Linked DNA regions of Homo sapiens: region 1 is linked to region 2. Evidence: fine-mapped expression QTL. A gene starts in region 2. The other region holds a variant in brackets. All regions are shown on one strand. Distances are between the middles of the regions.

Region 1 (4,404 bases), 570 kb after region 2:
CTGGGCCAATTATAAGCAGAGTGACTTGGGGCTGCACCTTAGTTTCTCCATCTGTAAAATGGGTTACTTACATTGTAGGCTTATTAGAAGGATTGAGTTAATACTGGTAAATGGCATAGAACAGTGACTTATACATGGTGAGCATTATATGCCTTTTCCTATGTAAATAAAATAACTCCTCCATGTATGGTATTCAGCCCCCCTCTCTGCCTACTCTTCTACTTTTCTGCCTCAACTTCCATCACTTCTGACCACACTTCTCACTCCCTTCACCACATCCAGCCATCCACCACATATTTTTGCATATTATGTTCCTTCCACCCCAAATATCCTTATTATTTTTCCACCTTGGAATATTCTACACAACCGGTTATTTATCACACATGTCTTTACAGTAATGTATATCCCATTATTATATAATTTACTGCCCCCACTAAGCTTAAGAACTTTGAGTTTCAAGAACTACCTTGTGCTCATGTCTACTAACTATATCTAGACTAGTGTGCAAGCATTTATTAAGTATTCAAGAACTGATTGATGTTGGAAAGAAAGAAGGAAAGGAGGGAGGCACAGAAATAAAATAAGAGTTGCTAACAATTTTCTCTGTGCCAGACAAGGTACTAAATTATTTACGTGGCTTAATTCAATTCTAACTACAGCCCTATGAGGTTGATAGCATTATTATCCCCATTTTACCGATAAGAAAAAAAAATGCACAGAGTTGATATTGGTGACTCTTCAAATATCAACCTGACCCTAGCATCTGTGTATATAGACATCTCACAAAGCTGTCTCCCACTGGTCCCAAACATAGCACTCGATCTCCTTCTCTCCAACCAGCAGCCAACACAGACTCCAGGAGAGCCAGGGAGACAGAGTGGGAAAAATGCAGGCTGCCATGCCTGGGTTTGAATCCCAACTCTAAGTCCCTCTAACAGACTTCCCTTAAGCAAGTTACTTAACATCTCTGATGCTGTTTCCTTAACTGTAAAATATGCATAATGGTGCTCGCCTCCCACCAACTAGAATTATCTGAGGACACAGGTAAATAAAAGATGTAGAGCTATAGTTGCAGGACCATAGAAAATGAGGCAGTTATGATTTAGACTAGCTTGGGAAAGAAAGTTAATTCGTTATAATTTCCATTCTTGGTGGTTTTAAAGCACAGCCTTAATACTCTTTTGTAATACACCAGTTTGGTTTGGCTAAGTAAGACACTTCAAAGAATATGTTTTACACATGTTTGAAACAAAGGCATTAAGGAATGTGGCAGGGAGATAGGAATCTCCTGAAAGTGTAAGGAGCAAAGAAAATCTAATTCACCATTAAAGAAAGCACATAACACTTCCATTCATATCGCACAAATAAAATAAAACTCCTTCCAGAATCCAGGCACCAATGACATAGTGGTCCGGAATTTCATCTTAGGATTTGAGAAACAGGGACTTGAACAAGCTGAACAATTCTTTGACATGCATAGGTGTAGAAAACCTAAAGGAAACCTTGAAATCCAGAGGAAGAGTTGGAAGAGGTTCATGTCAATCTTAATTTAAGAAACCTAACCACATTTGTAACTGAAGAAGCCATGAACACACAAAATATGAAATTTTCTAAAATGGAACTTTGTTTGACGGGATTTAACCTTGTCTATTTTTCTTGTGGTCTTCTGACATTTTTGCAGTACATGATCAAAGACCACCCCAAGACTTTTTCTCCCCAAATTTAGAAACGATTATAAGAAGCAACTAATTTATGGCTGTAAAGACCAAGTACATGTTTCATATGGCATAATTAAAACTAGGTCAATGAGAGAAAAGAATGAGAGGCAGAGAGGTTGTCTAAATATTACACTGAAAAATGACAATCTACCTTCAAACAATTCTTCTACCATTTCTCTAGCCATGTCCTCCATTTTTGCATTTAAAGAATATTCAGTTTCCAAGATACCAGGTTTTCCAGCCATCTCCTAGGTTAGTGTGCCAAATGCTACAGATGGAGCTAAATAGATCTGTGGTAATTTACTATTCTCTACAGTCAAAGGGCAAATGTATCTCCTGCCTTTACTGTAGCCCTCTGGAGCATGCTCTGCACTTACTCTCTGGCGTGAGTTCCCTCTGATAACCAGGCAGGGCTCACTGGTAGGGTGCATATGCAGAAAACTCCAGGCTACAGATCAGAGAGGAGAATTCAGTCCAGGCCCAGCTGGGCATTCCAAATTGAGGGGGGAAAAAAGCAAAAAT[A/C]ATATCAACAACTGGGAGAAATGCCCTGATTCTGCAAGTTCAGGGTTTTCAAATCTTCTAGGAATTACATCCATATCTCTGATGTGCTCTGTGGTGGATGAGGCAAGGCAAAGTAGCAACTAAGGGAATAGGGGCCACAAGAAAAAGAAAAATAACTGAAGGAAATCATACAAACGTCTGATTCTGTTCCAGAAAGTCACTCTTGTGAAGCTCACGGGGCATTAAGAAGAATGGTTTGTGTGCTTCGTTTGAGTTGGCTCAGCTGCATGGGGGAAAGAGGAACTAATTGCATAAACTCTACCAAGTGTCTGGTAGCCTGACATGTTTTTCCCCTTGTCCTTCCCACACTCACCCCTTCCTACAGCCACAGTTTCAACCCCCACATCCTCTAATCTCCTTTTAGCTCCTTTCTGGAATGGAGAGTGACATTCATGCTGAATGTGTGACTACCTGGCAACAACATCCAAGCTTCGCTATAATTGATCATCTTCCAGTCAACACTTTGGGCCTTGGGCAAAGCTTGCCTGAGATGTGGCCCTGAATCCTGTCAGAGCAGTGTCACTGCTAACACCTAGGATAGACGCACCACCAGCAGACCGAATTCTCCAGCAGGCCATTTATCAGTTCCAACCATTTCTATAGCTGACAAGCAAAGAAAGACGTTTCTAAGTGACTGATTCAGTTATGCATGTCTTTCAACACTTTCTGTTTTGAATGGTCTGTTTTAGTAGGGTTTGTGGCACTTGATGGCCCTAAAACCACAAATGCCTGAAGTACTTTTCTTTGAAATAATTTAGGCATTTTCTTCCTAGCAAGCTGCAGAAAGTGCAATTACAAAACATGCCTAAGGGATAGATCTTCCTAGGCATATAAAAATAACAATTTCTCCACAAAAAATCATCTTTCCCACACACTCCATCCAGCCTTGGGAAACAGTGCTTCAGGCTGTTGTGATAGGAGGGTCTGAGGGACCTTATTCTTCCCAACTTGCTTACCCACCCTGAGAGTCCCCTCATAATACTTCAATTTGCTTCCTTTCCCCCATTTAGAATCCTTCCTGAGCTCTTAGGATCAAGATGATCCTCAGGATGCGGCTTCAGGAATCCGTGTGATGTGGACTAGGCCTGTCTCTCTCCATTGCCAGTAAGCTCTCCACATGGCTTTATTCCAGGGTCTTAAACTAACCAAGCCTGTCCTGCCACGGAGCCTTCTCACAGGTCATCACCATGCCTGGGCTGAACTTCCCTCCTCCCAACCCCTACCATCTTTGAACTTACCTTGGAGATCAAATAATCACTTTTAGCAGGCCTTTCCTGACTCCAAAATAAAGCAGACTCCTCCCTGAATTCTCCACAGGTAACTCTCTTTCTGCTCCAGTAGCTTTTGTCACACTTTACCTTCTTCCTCCAGAAAGAGACCCCTGAGTACAGGAACTGTGTCTGTTGCATTCGGTGCTGTACTTAGCACTTAGCTCAGTGCATGGCACCAAATAGGCCCTGTATTAGTCTCCTATGGCTTCCATAACAAAATATCATAGTCTGGGTGGCTTCAACAACAAGAACATATTTTCTCAGAGTTCTAGAGGCCAGAAGTCCAAGGTCAAGGTGCCATCAGGGTTGGTTTCTGGCAAGGCCTCTCTTCCTGCCTTGTGACTAGCCTTCTTCCTGAATCCTCCTGTGACCTTACCTCTGAGTATGCATGCAGGGGGAAGCGAGACAGAGAGCTCTCTGCTGTCTCTTTCTTTTCTTAAGAGGCCACCAACCCTATCAGATTAGGACCCCACTCTTTTTTTCTCTTTTTTTTTTTTTGAGACGGAGTCTCGCTCTGTTGCCCAGGCTGGAGTGCGTTGGCGTGATCTCGACTCACTGCAAGCTCCGACTCCCAGGTTCACACCATTCTCCTGCCTCAGCCTCCCAAGTAGGTGGGACTACAGGTGCCCGCCACCACGCCCATCTAACTTTTTGTATTTTTAGTAGAGACGGGGTTTCACTGTGTTAGCCAGGATGGTCTCGATCTCCTGACCTCGTGATCCACCCACCTCGGCCTCCCAAAGTGCTGGGATTACCAAAGAACCCCACTCTTATGACCTTTTTAACCTTAATTACCTCCCAAAAGGCTCTATCTCCAAGTATAGTCACATTGGGGTTAGAGCTTTAACATATGA
Region 2 (4,404 bases):
TGTTTTTAATATGGTACCTATGCACAACAATGGACTAGGTGCTATACATAATCTCATTTAATATTCACAATTGTTGCATGGAATAGAAACTATTTTACCATACCCCACCCTCCCTTTTACCGATGAGAAAATGCTAAATGAGTTGATCTAGGCTGCACAAAGAGCAAGAATTACCAAGAATGTTCAAACCACAATTTATCTGACTCCAAAGCTCATCTATTTAATCTGTGCCTATCTACTTTATAGAATAATTCTAAAAGGATGCAAGTCTTTAACTTCTTTCTTTCAGAGAAGGTATGCCTTTGTGGTATGCATTGAATATTGAGTACCCTAAGGGAAGAGTGTACCATAAGCCTTTCGTGTCTTCTCAGCCTCATCTCTTCCACCAGTCAGCTGCACCATATAGTCTGTCGTAGGTTCTGGCCAAGCTCACACAGGTGAACCTGACAGTGTCCTTCTTAGGTTCCACAGGGACTCCCTGATGCTGCTGCATGGCACGTCTGTGCCAGTCACACAACTTGGTAGTGTGGGGAAGTTCACGTCCATTAGGTCACGCTTGACAATAGGAGAGCCGGAGCCCACGGAAAAAAAAAAAATCATTTCCATTTTATCTTCCAGGTGAACAATTCTGAAATACATTTCATAAGCCTCCTTAGAAAGTCTGGCAGGATGGAACACCATTTGCCTATAGTGGTGGCCGATGCATTCATTTTTGGTTTGGCTTTCCCTCCTGCGTTTCATTCTCTCTCATTCCTGTCCCTTGGGTTCCTGTCCCTAATGGTCTGCATGCAAGCTCTTTTTCTAGGTTATGCATTCAGAGTACTTCAAGCTAAGACACAGGTAATTTGTTTTATTAATTATTATATGCCCATCTTCTAGTAATGTATCTGACAGAGTATATATATAATCAATGATGATAAAACTGAAATTTTTTCTTATATTTTTACATTGCCTAAAATGTGCTTGGGGTAAAGGGAGTTAAGAAATTGTTATTTTTTTCACATTTGAGAAACTGTAATGATGCTTAGTTGTTGCCATGGATGTGTTGCCTTGGAAGCTGAGGAATTGGACAGGGTTGAATCCATTCTGGTCATTTCTAGGGGTGTTAAATGGGCACACACATCCAGAAAAAGTAACTTCTAATTCCCTTGATGCCAAGATCAATGTAATCAGTGCTATTATTTTCTAATTGTAAAAGCCATATTCCTATTACTGAAATTTGTAATACAATTTTTATCACTCATTCCTTTTTCCCCCTAGTGCAAAGTGAATACCGTAGTAAATTCCTTGCTTTTTCAGATATGGGTAATTATTTTTAAGCAACAGGATAGCTCATACTCTAAATTGAAATAAGCCCATCTTATTGATTCATATCCAATTTGTCATCAGATAGATATCAGCCTTTAAAAATAGAATCATAACTAGGATTAATTAAAACAATTTAAGAAGGTCTTGTAAGGGAAGCCAAACAGTGAAAAACGGTTGAAATTGAACCCCTTCTCTCTGTTACTTTCTGATCAATGTTTTCAACGCCCGTGGGCTTTCTGGCAATAAGTGTTCTGGTGTCAAGGATTACAACTGGGATCCCTTCAAGAGCAATAAATTCACTTAAAATATATAAATATGTTTCACTTACCACTGACCTGGAGGTGAAAAGTTCTATATCAAATTACTCACAGCCTGAGATACCCATTCTCCTATTCTGATTCTAATTAAAAAGGGCTGAGAAACAAGCTATGTAAGAAAGTTCATTTATAGTACAGTAAAAAAGTAAGGAAGATTTACTAAGTGTTACTTGCCACACAAAGCTGCAACTACAGCAAACCAGGAGGAAAGGAGACTTCAATGTTTCTTCCAAATAGAACATGCTTTTCCAATTAAAAAAAAAATTCACCACCATAATCCAAGAACTTGTCACTTCATGTCGATCTTTTGTGAAAGCTTTCTAATTGGATTCCCTGAGTCTTGGAGTTTCCTTCATGGGTTTTCACACTGCTGGAGTAACCATTATGAACATTGTGATGCACATGATATTCCTATGCCCTCAAATTGGCAGGGATCCACCATTGCCCAGGTTAGATCATTCAAAGTTTTTCGTCGAAGCATTCTAGCTATCTTCCAAACTTCCATCTCACAACTGATATGGCTGCCAGGAGAGGCAAAAACAAATTCTTCACAGGCAGTGAAATGCCTTCTAAGTGCATTGTGGCGTGATGGTCAATCTCATTTCATTTATTTTCCTGGTCTACTGGCAAGTGTGAGGCCAGGAAACATCTTTCATACTGTCTTTTTTACAGACACCAGGCACTCAAACAATCTTTTATTAATTGAATGAGAATTGTATCCCGTTCAATTGGGTATTGTTTAGATGCTGTCCTACATATTTTACCTTTAATATACTGTAGGTTCGATGAACAAACTAAAATATTTCAAATTTAATTACCCTGAGAAACTACAATAATTAGGGACAAATGGAGAAACTGAGGGCTGATTCCGCTCTCACTTAAGGCCACACTTATGATTGTGCGGGTGATACACTTCAAAACTCTAGAAGCCTCAGCTACATTATAGTGGATGTGAATAATGCCCCCTGCCCTCAGAAGGGTTTCAGGCAACACTTGCTGAGCCATACCTGGCAGCCATGCTGACCTTTACTAGCCTTGTAGATTTGGACAAGCTCTTTAACCTCCTAATTTATGAATAGGGGACAGTGTACTTCTTTAAAGGATTGTTGAGGATAAAATTATGTATTATTTCTTCCTAGCATTGTTTACAATTATGAATTTGGTTAGTGTCTAACACTGGAATATGTACCTTTCATGAATGTAGGGAGCATGTCTATTTTTGCTTATCACAAGAGTGCACTTTTTTGTAATGTGCCAGCTGTTGAAAAATATTGGTTAAGGAATGAATAAATGTCAATTAAGTTATGCAGAGTACCTGGCACATAACTGGAGCTAAGTAAATGTTGGTGCCTTCTTATCCCCCTTCTATTGTAATTAAAGATAAAAAATTTCTAGGGAGATATCAACAGCATTAAAATTGTTTACCACTTAAATCTATCTATATGCTTCTTTAGCATTCTAAGAAAATAAGAATATAGGATTAAATATCTCAATGATCAAAACAAGAAGTGCTAAACCTTCAAAGCATTGTCTCTGGAATTGATTAGATCTGATTTTGCGACCATGCTCCTATCGAAGTAACTGAGCAAGTCCGAATTCTTTTGTAATTAATAACACCTGTAGCCATTAGCTACCTTACAAGTTGATGTAAGAATAAATACAACATTTTGCCACTGTGACAGAGGTTTCCAAATGTGGCTTCATAGAACTCCAAGGACTTGAAGCCAAGTAATATAAGCAACAATATCACCAATATTTTATTTTATTTACTTTTTTTATTTTTATATTTATTTATTTATTTATTTAATTTATTTATTTATTTTTTTTTTGAGACAGAGTCTCTCCTGTGGCCCAGGCTGGAGTGCAGTGGTGCAATCTTGGCTCACTGTAAGCTCTGCCTCTTGGGTTCACGCCATTCTCCTGCCTCAGCCTCCTCAGTAGCTGGGACTACAGGCGCCCACCACCACTCCAGGCTAGTTTTTTGTATTTTTTTAGTAGAGTCGGGGTTTCACTGTGTTAGCCAGGATGGTAGGATGGTGTCCATCTCCTGACCTTGTAATCCGCCCACCTTGGCCTCCCAAAGTGCTGGGATTACAGGTGTGAGCCACCGCGCCCGGCCACCAATATTTTTAAAAGGCTTTTATGTTTCCCCACTTTATTAAAAAACAAAGCAAGGCAAAATACAACAGAAAAAACACATGAATAACATGCATTCATATAATTTTTATATATTTCCTCTTCAAAGTTTTTTTCTCCTTCAATCTTTGTTGCTTTTTATTACTTATCTACAATATATAAATTCTGGGATAGTAACTAATGTATGGTAAGATAATATATCTAGTTAATAAAATCAGATATATTGACGTCTCCTTTTACAGCATGATGACCTTAATGCTTTTCCATCACCTGAACAGGTTGAGAAGCATTGCTCTACCAAAATGAACCACGTGTTTATAATTGCAATTACCAATGCCCTTTATTTTGAATATACAACTAGCCAGGTTATTCAGAGAGTAAGCTCATGAAGATTATGATCAGGTTAAAGAGACAAACCATGTAATACACAAGATAAATACCCAACAGTAAAATCAGTGATATTAAATATGCCTGAGCTGCAGGGAATTCTATCAGAATTTAGCAAAATGAGATAGCATGGTAGGGCAGGGTAACCAGGAAAGCTTTGAAGTTTGCTAAGAAGTTAGAAGAGCAAGGGAAGGTAGTTCAGCTGAGGGGAACAGCAAGACCCACCATTTTGAATTATCAAGGATCTTTTCAGCTT

Evidence for each region. PIP is the estimated chance that this variant, and not a neighbour inherited with it, causes the effect.
Region 1: its variant is the best candidate, but not a certain one, in a credible set for the expression of LINC01361 in B cells (Schmiedel 2018, PIP 0.64).

What each region holds. Positions count from the first base shown.
Region 1 is chr1:83,556,782-83,561,185 of GRCh38, forward strand. All of the region lies in intron 2 of LOC107985043, which reads left to right. Among named protein-coding and RNA genes, the nearest start is that of LINC01712, 110 kb to the left of the region's middle. The variant A/C (reference allele first, on the strand shown) is at 2,241.
Region 2 is chr1:82,984,513-82,988,916 of GRCh38, forward strand. LINC01361 (long intergenic non-protein coding RNA 1361) reads right to left here and starts at 1,696. Exons shown (of 3, transcript NR_110633.1): 1 at 1,637-1,696. The region is part of intron 2 of LINC01362 (long intergenic non-protein coding RNA 1362); the gene reads left to right.